3 linked regions of the Homo sapiens genome follow. The protein of the gene in region 1 purifies or fractionates together with the protein of each later gene. This does not show direct contact. Each region holds a gene or a part of one and is shown in the gene's direction. Other genes may lie near its edges. The genes, in order: TAFA2, MRC2 and ATRNL1.

Evidence for each region.
Region 2: the proteins of TAFA2 (region 1) and MRC2 purify together in Homo sapiens (affinity purification with mass spectrometry; one large-scale study listed by BioGRID and IntAct). This does not show direct contact.
Region 3: the proteins of TAFA2 (region 1) and ATRNL1 purify together in Homo sapiens (affinity purification with mass spectrometry; one large-scale study listed by BioGRID and IntAct). This does not show direct contact.

What each region holds. Positions count from the first base shown.
Region 1 is NC_000012.12:62,182,687-62,186,338, reverse strand, and holds part of TAFA2 (chemokine-like protein TAFA-2 precursor), read left to right. Parts: intron 1-3,652. UniProt on the Homo sapiens protein: Has a role as neurotrophic factor involved in neuronal survival and neurobiological functions.
Region 2 is NC_000017.11:62,679,592-62,683,243, forward strand, and holds part of MRC2 (C-type mannose receptor 2 precursor), read left to right. Parts: intron 1-208; coding exon 209-311; intron 312-578; coding exon 579-717; intron 718-826; coding exon 827-862; intron 863-1,208; coding exon 1,209-1,369; intron 1,370-1,470; coding exon 1,471-1,538; intron 1,539-2,245; coding exon 2,246-2,346; intron 2,347-2,643; coding exon 2,644-2,786; intron 2,787-3,652. UniProt on the Homo sapiens protein: May play a role as endocytotic lectin receptor displaying calcium-dependent lectin activity. Internalizes glycosylated ligands from the extracellular space for release in an endosomal compartment via clathrin-mediated endocytosis.
Region 3 is NC_000010.11:115,302,811-115,306,462, forward strand, and holds part of ATRNL1 (attractin-like protein 1 isoform 1 precursor), read left to right. Parts: intron 1-3,652. UniProt on the Homo sapiens protein: May play a role in melanocortin signaling pathways that regulate energy homeostasis.

The sequences.
Region 1 (3,652 bases):
ATATAAATAAATATATATATATTTGCTGCTACAAACTAGTCACTGCATAATTGCATGCATGTGAATGGGCAACGGTGTTGCCCTTTAAAGGTCATGCAAACATTCTGAACCTTTCAATTTTCAGTGTTAATTGCCTATGGCCTCCTGTAGCTGCACATGGAACTTTCTGTTGAGTTTAATAATAAAGAAAAACACTTTGACTTTCTTTGGGTGGATTATGCAGCTCTTTATAAACAAGTCTTTGAAAATAAATTATAGTGGGCACTAGAACAGAAGATTTTTGTAAAGGTGCATTTGTGCTTTGGAATTAAAGTTTTCAAACCAGAATGTCCTGGGCTATGAGGAGACAGATTCCTTCTGGTACAAAAAACTGATCATTCAAAATTATTGTCTATATCTGAAAACTCTGCCATGGTTTTAAAAGGGTTATGTGGTTATAGGAATTTTAATAGCAAACTTCCACCTAGTGATAGAACAAAGAGACTTTATTAAAATATATTCTTTGAGAGGGCAGGCCTTCCAGGACCTTACAAACAATAGGGCATTATATATTGATGGAATGAATTTGTGACTTTCAGATCAGTCAAGAATTTAGAAATGGCCATTCATATTACTTGAGAAAAACAACATTTATACTTATATTTTTATCATTACTAGCTTATAGACAGTTCTAATTTCACAGAGGCACTGTCCAGTACTATTTTATTTAAAGTAGGAAACCTGGTTACTGTTACCATTTCTTTCTTAGTTTAGTTTTACCTTGTTATAGTTATATGGTAAATGGCATACTCAAATTTGTTGGTGCTAGAGTGTTCAGAAAATTTCTCAGAAATGGCTATCAGACAAGTCAGTAGCTGTGAACTGGTCTTGCTTGCTATTTGGGTTCTCCAGCTTTGTTTGTATTTTCTTTGGAAAGTTGAGTCAAATTGAGTGAAATAGCTCTAACTTTAGTTCTTTTTCACAGTGTAGAAAGAGAAAAGAGGTAGACGATCCACATTTCAGTGAAGCAATTCAAAGGCCAAGGGGAGAATGAGAGGGCATTGAAATCTCATCCTCCACAAAACAGAGGCCCCATTTTGGAAAACTTTAAGGAAAAAACTTAACCTAATTTTTAAAAGTTTAGTTCTTGGACTAAATCTAATGACTGTTATATGACAGTTTTTTTCCTGCTAAGATATGTATGTATTTAAACATTATTGCCAACCCCTATTAGACTGATAATTGGCATGCTTATAAATATACATTCAGAATTGGGTCAGAATTTATACTTTTTTAGTTGAAGGTATGTTTGCTCCTTCCATCATTTGTTGAGTGGTTAAAATTCATTAGCTTGCTATTTGGGTTAGCAGATAAATTTTGAAATTGACTATTATAAAACCAGTGTGGTGCAGTGGCGAGAGCTCTGGAGATGCTTTGTAGCTCTAACAATAAATAACCATGTGGCCATGAAAAAACCACTTTATTTCTCTGTGCCTCAGTTTCTCAGCAACATATTTCTTCAGTGGAGTTTTTAAGACAATTAAAATAAAGTGTTTTTTCAGCCAGGCACGGTGGCTCATGCCTGTAATCCCAGCACTTTGGGAAGCTGAGGCAAGAGGATCACTTGAGCCCAGGAGTTCAAGACCATCCGGGCAACATGATGAAACCCTGCCTTTACAAAAGTAAAAAAAAAAAAATTAGCCAGGCATGGGTGTGTGTGCCTGTAGTCCCAGCTACTTGAGAGGCTGAGAGGGGGGAGGATCACTTGAGCCTGGGAGGTCACAGCTGCATTGAGCTGTGATCACACCATGCACTCTAGCCTGGGTGACAGAGTGAGACTATGCCTCAAAAAAAAAAGAATTTTTTTTTTCCCGTGTGTTCAGACCCACTAAGTATCATGGCATGGAAGTGCAATAATATAGCGTGACATATTTAACCTTAAGGAGCTTCCCTTTTAGTTAGGAAGTCAAGGAAAATCTAGCAGATAGTTTCTGGCATTTAAATACCTCATATATACTTTCCAATAGATAAGTAATCTGTTATATGACAGTTGTTTCCTGCTAAGATATGTATGCATTTAAGCATTATTGTAAACCCCTTTTAGACTGATGATTGGTGTGCTTATCAATATACATTCAGAATTGGGTCAAAATTTATACTTTTCTAGTTGAAGATATGTTTGCTCCTTCCGTCATTTGTTGAGTGGTTAAAATTCATTAGCTTGCTATTTGGGTTCTTCAGCTTTGTAAGATTGAGATGGAGATGATGAAGATGATGATAATGATGATTATGGTGATGACTAAAGGCTATAGACCTTGGGACATAAAATTGAATCAGATTTAATCTTATAATTTAGTAATGTTGCTTTATCTGCATGATGCTGTTTTGTTATAAAACAAGTTGTGATAGGTCATGGGTCTCAGGTTTTTTAGGGTTACATGTCTTTGCTCTACTGATGGCTTTCATAGTCACTGAAATAAAATTAGTTCGATCAACTAGGCTAGAAAATAAATAATCTTCATATATTATATGATAATTAAACATATTCATTCAAAATCTATGTATGAATTTTGAGAATTTATAATCCTTGGAAAAGTCTGTTCATTTATTCAATAAGTATTTATTGGGCACTGTCTTAGTCAGTTTGAGCTGCTGTGATAAAAATACCACAGATTGACTGGGTGCAGTGACTCACGCTTGTAATCCCAACACTTTGGGAGGCCGAAGTAGGTGGATCACTTGAGCCCAAAAGTTTGAGACCAGCCTGGGCAATATGATGAAACCCTGTCTCTGCAAGAAAATACAAAAATCAGCCGGGCATGGTGGCAAGTGCCTGTAGTCCCAGCTACTGGGGAGGCTGAGGTGGGAGGTTTGCTTGAGCCCAGGAGGTTGAGGCTGCAGTGAGCTGTGATGGTGCCACTGCACTCCAGCCTGACTGACAGAGCAAGACCCTGTATCAAAACAACTACCACCACAAACAAAAACAAAACCACAGACTGAGTGATAAACAATAAGCAGTAATTTCTCACAATTCTGGAGGCTGGGAAGTTCAAGATCAAGGCACCAGCAGATTTGTCTGGTGAAGGTCATCTTCCTGGCTTGTAGACACCCACCATCTTACTAGACCCTCATGTGGTGGTTGTGGGGTGGGGGAACAGGTATCATCTCTCTCATGTCTCTTCTTATAAGACAATAATACTATTCATGAGGGCTCCACTTTCATGATATAATTACTTCTCAAAGGTCCCACCTACAAATACCATCACATTGGAGATTTAGGCTTTAGTATATGAATTTTGGGAAGACACAAACATTCAGTCCATAGAAAGCACTCTCTAGGTGTTTGGGCTATCTTAGTATACAAAAAAGGCAGACATCTGCCCTCATGATATTTACCATTTTAGTATATTACTTGGAGTTTTGAAATTAATCTGAAGGAATGGTTCAACAATGTATTGTGCTGTATGTTTTCTTCTTAGTCATTCTTATTTATAGCTGTGAAGTATAGGTCTGAAAAGAAATAATTAAAATAGTTAAATATTTGAGTTGAAATGGATTGTGAAGAAAAATATTATAGAATATATTTGAGGTGAGGTATGTAATGCAGTGGATTGATTCTAGCTCACAAGGTCTGTCCTCAAATGGAGGGTGACACAAATGGTAGATGCAGAAG
Region 2 (3,652 bases), on another chromosome or scaffold:
TCCAGCTCTCCCCAGCTCTGTCTTGTGGGGAGAACTTTACCGAAGTGACCTCAACGCTGTATCGATGGGTCAATGTGAAGCCCAGATGGAGAGGCCCCAGGCCCTGGGGGCTGCCCCGGTCACAGCTGCAAGGGACAGGGGGCACGTTTGGGTTCCTGCCCCTCTCACTTCCCATCTCTTCCGTCCCCACTCCTGGGTTGTGCTGAAGTGAATCAGAACCCGAGATCCACGAGCAGCACTGGTTCTGGATCGGCCTGAACCGTCGGGATCCCAGAGGGGGTCAGAGTTGGCGCTGGAGCGACGGCGTAGGGGTGAGGGGGCCTGGGGTACTTGGGACTGCGAGGCCGGGAGCTTGGTGGGCGGGGCCTGTTTGGGGCGGGGCCTGGAGGTGGGCGGGTTTTCTTGAGGGCCGGGCCCCCAGTCGGAGCCGGCTTCAGGAAAGCAGGTCCGAGAGGGGTCACCCGGCCCCCGGTGAGAATTCGCAGCTCAGGCCAGGCCTCTTGTTCACCTGTTCCGGGCATGGGGGCGGCCTGCACCTTGCGCCTCACGTTCCTCTTCCCTCCACCCGCCTCCTCCAGTTCTCTTACCACAATTTCGACCGGAGCCGGCACGACGACGACGACATCCGAGGCTGTGCGGTGCTGGACCTGGCCTCCCTGCAGTGGGTGGCCATGCAGTGCGACACACAGCTGGACTGGATCTGCAAGATCCCCAGAGGTTGGCCGGAGTGGCGCTGGGGGACGCGGGATGGAGCGAAGGGTGGCGGGGCCAGGAATTCCAGGGAGGGTCTCCTTTCCTCACAACGTCTTTGTCCTTGTTCCCCTAGGTACGGACGTGCGGGAGCCCGACGACAGCCCTCAAGGTGAGCACCCCCCAGCCCATCCCGCTACCCATCGCGTGGGAGAGGGCGTCAACTCTGGGGTAAGTCCCGAGAGGCCTGAATGAAATGGAGGGGATGAGGAGTTCCGGTCGAGAGAAGGGGGACGGGGTTGGCTCGGACGGAGGCAGCCACAGCCCTGTTTGCTTCCGTGTGGGAGGCGAGGCAAGCCTGGGGCCTGGGGCCTGGCACGGTGCCTGCCTGGGTCCGGTGTGCCTGCAGGCTCGCCTGCTGCCGCCTGGCTCTGCCCCGGCCCTGCCGCGCCCGCCTCCGGGGCCTGGCGTGCAGCCTCTGCCTGGCCGCCGCTCCCACGCCCGCGCTGCTCCTGCAGGCCGACGGGAATGGCTGCGCTTCCAGGAGGCCGAGTACAAGTTCTTTGAGCACCACTCCACGTGGGCGCAGGCGCAGCGCATCTGCACGTGGTTCCAGGCCGAGCTGACCTCGGTGCACAGCCAGGCGGAGCTAGACTTCCTGAGCCACAACTTGCAGAAGGTGGGCATTGGATTGAGCAGGGGGCTGCAGGCTGGGGGAGGGCAGGCCCGGGATGAGGGCAGGGGGCTGCCTACCCACACCTGCCCGCCTGGCTTCTCCAGTTCTCCCGGGCCCAGGAGCAGCACTGGTGGATCGGCCTGCACACCTCTGAGAGCGATGGGCGCTTCAGGTAGGAACCCAGGCAGGCAGCAGATGTGGAAGGGGGCTGGCTGTCCACACACGGAGCACAGAGGCAGACTTGCATTTGAATCCAGCCCTGCCCCTTCCTTGCTGGCTGTGTGGCCTTGAGCAAGATACTTAACCTTTCTGGGCCTTGGTTTTCTCATCTGAAAATGGGAATATGAGGCCTGCCTGGTAAGATTTTTGTGAAGATTAGAAATAACATATGCGAAGTGCTTACGCAGCATCCAGCACATTAGTTACTAAATAATGGCAGCTCCTGTTACGTCTGGTGTCATTCATCATGACTAAGGCCCTCTCGGGGAAGTGGGCAGAACATATGATGATCCGGGGGCCTCTTTGTATTTGGTGCCTACTTACCATGTACTGGGGGGCTTGAGGCAGGAAGGACCAGGAGCACCTGGGACTCAGAATTTGAGCTTGTCTTTTTGCCCTTGGGCTTCCTGCCCTGGAGTCCTCAGGCTTCTTTTCTGGAGCAGCAAGTGTCCAGGGACAGCTGGGGCCTTATCTAGAGGCACCAGGTCCTTGGGTCTTTGACTGCCCTGAGCTCAGTAGCTCCACCCCTCAGCCTACAGCCACTAAACCCCAGAACCTGGGCCCTTCCCTGCCCCCATTCCTGCGGCCTTCATTGCTGCATCCGGTGGAGGCCCAGCTGGGGGCCGGTGCTGGAGTTACCTCTGCTCCATGCCATTGCAGATGGACAGATGGTTCCATTATAAACTTCATCTCCTGGGCACCAGGCAAACCTCGGCCTGTCGGCAAGGACAAGAAGTGCGTGTACATGACAGCCAGCCGAGGTGAGGGCAAGGTGGGGGCAGAGTGCGCAGTCAGCTGTGCAAAGGGTTAATGCTGGGCGAGCCTGGGCAGAAGTCATCAGTCTGTTCTCATTCTCTTTGTTCCCACAACCCAATAAAGGCTAGACTCAGCGAGGGGTGGACCTGTCTCCATGGTCCAGAAGACTTGAATTCGGAGCTGGACACAGGCCCTGAGCCTCTGCCCAGACTCCTCTCAGGGCATGAGGCTGAGTGTGCTGCCAGCCATGCCCTGCCCTGCTCTGCCCTGGGGGTGACTGCCCTCCCCTCCCCTTTCCGCAGAGGACTGGGGGGACCAGAGGTGCCTGACAGCCTTGCCCTACATCTGCAAGCGCAGCAACGTCACCAAAGAAACGCAGCCCCCAGACCTGCCAACTACAGCCCTGGGGGGCTGCCCCTCTGACTGGATCCAGTTCCTCAACAAGGTAGGAGGTGGCAATGGGGCACCCAAGGGAGTCAGGGGAGAGGACGTGAACAGGGAAAGGCTGAGCCTCAGGAGTCCTGGCCTTTTGGCAGCACCAAACTCATGGCCTCTTGCCTGTACCCACCAACTTCTCTTTCACCTGGCTCCAGTACCAGGGCCAGACTCCTTGGAAAATGACTCACTGTAGTAGCACCTTCCAATCCTCCGGGAAGCAAGGTTGTCCAAATAATTTGGTGAGTGTTCTAGATCAGTGATTGCCAAAGATTTTTTTTTTTTTTTTTTGAGAAGGAGTTTCACTCTTGTCACCCAGGCTGGAGTGCAGTGGCGCGATCTCGGCTCACTGCAACCTCTGCTTCCTGGGTTCAACCAATTCTCTTGCCTCAGCCTCCCGAGTAGCTGGGATTACAGGCACCTGCCACCACCCCTGGCTAATTTTTGTATTTTTAGTAGAGATGGGGTTTCACCATGTTGGCCAGGCTAGTCTCGAACCCCTGAACTCAGGTGATCACCTGCCTTGGCCTCCCAAAGTGCTGGGATTACAGATGTGAGCCACCGCGCCCGGCCTGATTGCCGGCCTGATTATCAAAGATTTTGATAATGAACTCCTATTAGTAAAACAAAATATTGAGCTTACATGACCAAACTATGTGTGTGTACATTTAACTTATATATGTATATGTGTGTGTAAATAAAACCTACTTCCATACTAATATGACTAATATTATATATAGTAAAATATGTATAAGAACAAAAGAGTATAAAACATTAGCTAAAGATTTTTAAATACTTTTAAGTTTAAAACATTTTTTTGGCTGCGCGTGGTGGGTCATGCCTGTAATCCCAGCCCTTTGGGAGGCTGAGGCGGGT
Region 3 (3,652 bases), on another chromosome or scaffold:
TTGTTAGCCTTGTAGGAACTTAAGACCGTGTGAAACTCTTTCTGCTTGGGAGAAAAAAGTGCCAATCTTAGCTAGCTTCTTCATAGCAGAGAATATGGTTTATCTTTCTGCAATCCACTCTTTGACACTGACGCTCATCAAAAATATGCCTTTTCACCTGAATTAATTGGTATGTTCAGATTTGGAACAAAAAAGTAGAAAGTTTTACTTACTCCTGCTGCTCTCATGACCTGTTTCTCAATGTTGGTTGCATTCATTCATATCCCACTCATTGGTATCTGTCCCTCTTGTAATTAATCCAGACTTTATGTCCTTTTTTTTTTGAATAATATACTTTTCAGGGGCCCAGTAGTTACCATTCTACCACCATAGAAAGCTGCAGAATCACCTGAGATAAAGTTGGTATGCAGGTTTTTTTTTTTTTTTTTTTTTGAGATGGAGTCTCACTCTGTGGCCCAGGCTGGAGTGCAGTGGCCTAATTTCAGCTCACTGCAACCTCCACCTCCCTGGTTCAAGTGATTCTCTTGCCTTAGCCTCCCAAGTAGCTGGGACTACAGGCATGTGCCACCATGCCCAGCTAATTTTTGTACTTTTTTTAGAGATGGGGTTTCACTGTTGGCCAGGCTGATCTCGAACTCCTGACCTCATGATCCACCCAGCTCGGCCTCCCAAAGTTCTGGGATTACAAGCGTGAGCCACCGCGCCCGGCCGGTATCCAAGTTTATGTCCGTTGAGGATGCTTTGATTTGAACAAAGCAAAATATCAGTTATTTGGTAAAGTCCAAACAGACAAATAAAATCAGAAGTTCTTTTGCTTCTTTTTCAGTTCCCTTCTTCTCAACATCTGAGTGTCCAGGAAGCTCACAAAGAAAAAAGGAGCAAGACTCCTTGGATTTTTTTTTCTTCCAATACTTTAACCTGCAGTAAACAGGATTTGAAATGAGTGAATCTAATTAACATGTTGGTGTGTTTGATCCAGGTTCCAAAGAAACTGTAGTTACAGTTCAGTCAAAGGAGACAAAATAACAGCCACTTGGAGTCTGGTGTATCTATTAAACTCAGGAATATGTTGTGGTTGAAATGTATTCAATGAGATAGGGAAAGCAACAGTTTCCCTCTCTATACAGGAATTCTCTCCAGGGGATCTTTATCCCGATTCTAATTCCTTTCTCCTAACAGCCCTAAGTTCTCCACTATCATCATCTCTCTTCATTTGTCATATTTGAAACTTTTAAAGGTCAAAGGTCCATTTTAGGTTTTTGCATCAGTCCACTGGTTTCCCTCTGACCCTTTCTCTCCAGGAAACAGCCACTTGGAGTTTTCCTAGGAGTGTAGGCCATAACACAGCTTGTTTCTATAACGTTCATAAGTATCTTCAGGACTTTCTTATTAGATCATTGACTTTCTTGCAGTCCCTCCATAGGAGCAGCCACTGGCAGCCTGACTGATGAAAATACAAACAACTATCCCAGCAGCAATATTTATTTTCTGCCCGTCCACTCTTCCTTCCCTCCTTTGAGCTTTCTTGTTTTTCCTCTGAGAGGCAACCCATTCTAGTTAGCAATTATAGTAATGATATGGCTCCCATGAGTGGAGGAACACCAGGGCTCTTGTCTCACGTTGAATTAGATTAAACAATACGGACACACGTGGAGTGGTTTTAAGGAGCAGAGAGTTTAATAGGCAAGAAAGAAAAGAAAAGGCAGAAGGTTCGCTCTTACAGAGACAGAGGGATGGGGGCTCCACAGCCGAAAGAGGAAACCCCAAGTGTGGTGCGTACCAGGCAGGTATATGTAGAGGCTGGAGGAGGGGGTGTCTGATTTGCATAGAGCTTAGGGGATTGGTTTGACCAGGCTTTCATTCAGGTAGCCCTCGGAAAAAAACTGGCCTTCCCACCCTAGCCTTTTAATATGCAAATGCAGGGCACCATGATGTTCTACACACATGGGGATATGTGGGGCGGCCATATTCCCAAATACATGTGGGGCAAGGGCAAGAGGACAAAGGTGGGAATCGCCATGTTGAGTGGACCCAGTTTCTAATGGCTTGCATATGCATACTAAAGGTTGCCGGCTTGGCTCTAAGAGCTGGGACTTTTCTGTTAGACAAGAAACACTTTTGGAGGTGTTTTAAAAAGAAATGAAAACTTTCCAAGGACTCCTTTTTTCTCTATCTGCCTAAAATAATTTCTTAATAACTTCTATCACAGTAACTTCATAATTCTGAGATCCCTGTTGGTGGTAAATCTAGTATGTTGAAGCCTGTAAGTGTATGGCCCTTGGACAACATGGTCACCCAGTTGATACTAGTCCTTCTTGCTCAGATGAGTCATCTTCCCATTTAGAGGTAGCCACTGCATAAGGCAATGCACGTAGAGACTTACTGACTTTCTAGGCCTTTCATCACTCTCAGTGGTCCAGTCAAATATGTATTTGGTCCATAGTGGGCACCACTGTTACTTGAAGAGCTAAGGCAAAACAGTAACACAATGCAGGCTGGAATCCCAGCTGCAGCTGTTGTGTTCATTTGTTCCTTCAGGCTCTTGGCATGAAGTGGAGAGGTATGCCTGGGATGGACATGGTTGGATGTATTATGAGTTGAGCTCCCTGTTGATATCCTTTTTTAGGGATTGTGGTAAGGAATGGGGGTGTTGTACCTGATCAAGTGGGTGGCAGTGTGGTGGTTGCAGGCATAAAATGGCCTTTGTGCATAGCAAAACATTTCAAAACTAGGAGCCAGCTGCCCAGGAGAGTTGAATACAAGAGTTGAAGACTTGTGGGGAATGAGACAATGCGCACCTTCTCCTGCCTCAATAGTCATGCTTGTCTCTCGACAAACATTATTGTTCAATGAAAGAAGCTAGACATGAAAGATTACATACTGTTTGACTACATTTAGGTATAAAGTTAAAAAATAGTCAAAACGGCACTGTATTGTTTAGAAATGCGTATTTAGGTGGTAAAACTATAGAGTAAGGCAAAAGTGTATTCTCAAAAATGTCAGCTAGAGGATGTTGCTGGGGGAAGTTTAGGGGTGCTGATTAGGAAATGAAACAAGAGAGGCAATGCTCCACTTCTAGGCTTTGTGCAGGTCCAGAGTGTGTGTTTATAGGAATTTATTAATCTTATATTTTTCTTTATGTAATTGTATGTGTGTTATATTTCACAATAAAAGAGGCTAGAAAGTAGGGAAAAACTGGTTTGTGAAAGTCTAAGCTCTTATACTCTTAACAACTTTCTAAAAATTATTTAGAATTAAGCTTATGTTGTCACAAATTTTTCTTATATCCCATTCCTTCTCATTTGTTCTACTTTTTTGTTTTTTTACAATTTTTTTTGGTGGTATAACACACATAACATAAATTTTACCATTTTAACCATTGGTAAATAATCTTTAGTAATTTCTTTCAAATAAATTGTGACATAAACTTTTGAGTCTTTGCATGTCTAAAAGTGTACTTTTCATTTTCACTTGAATGATAAAATGGCTAAATGTGGTATTCCAAATAATTTTTTCCTTGGAACCTCTTTAGCACTCAGTGTTGTGGATAAGAATTCCAATGCCAATCTAATTTTCATTCCTTTGTGGAACATCTTTTTTATCCCCCCTTTGGGAGCTTTTAAGATTTTTTTCTTTCTTGTTGGCATTCTAA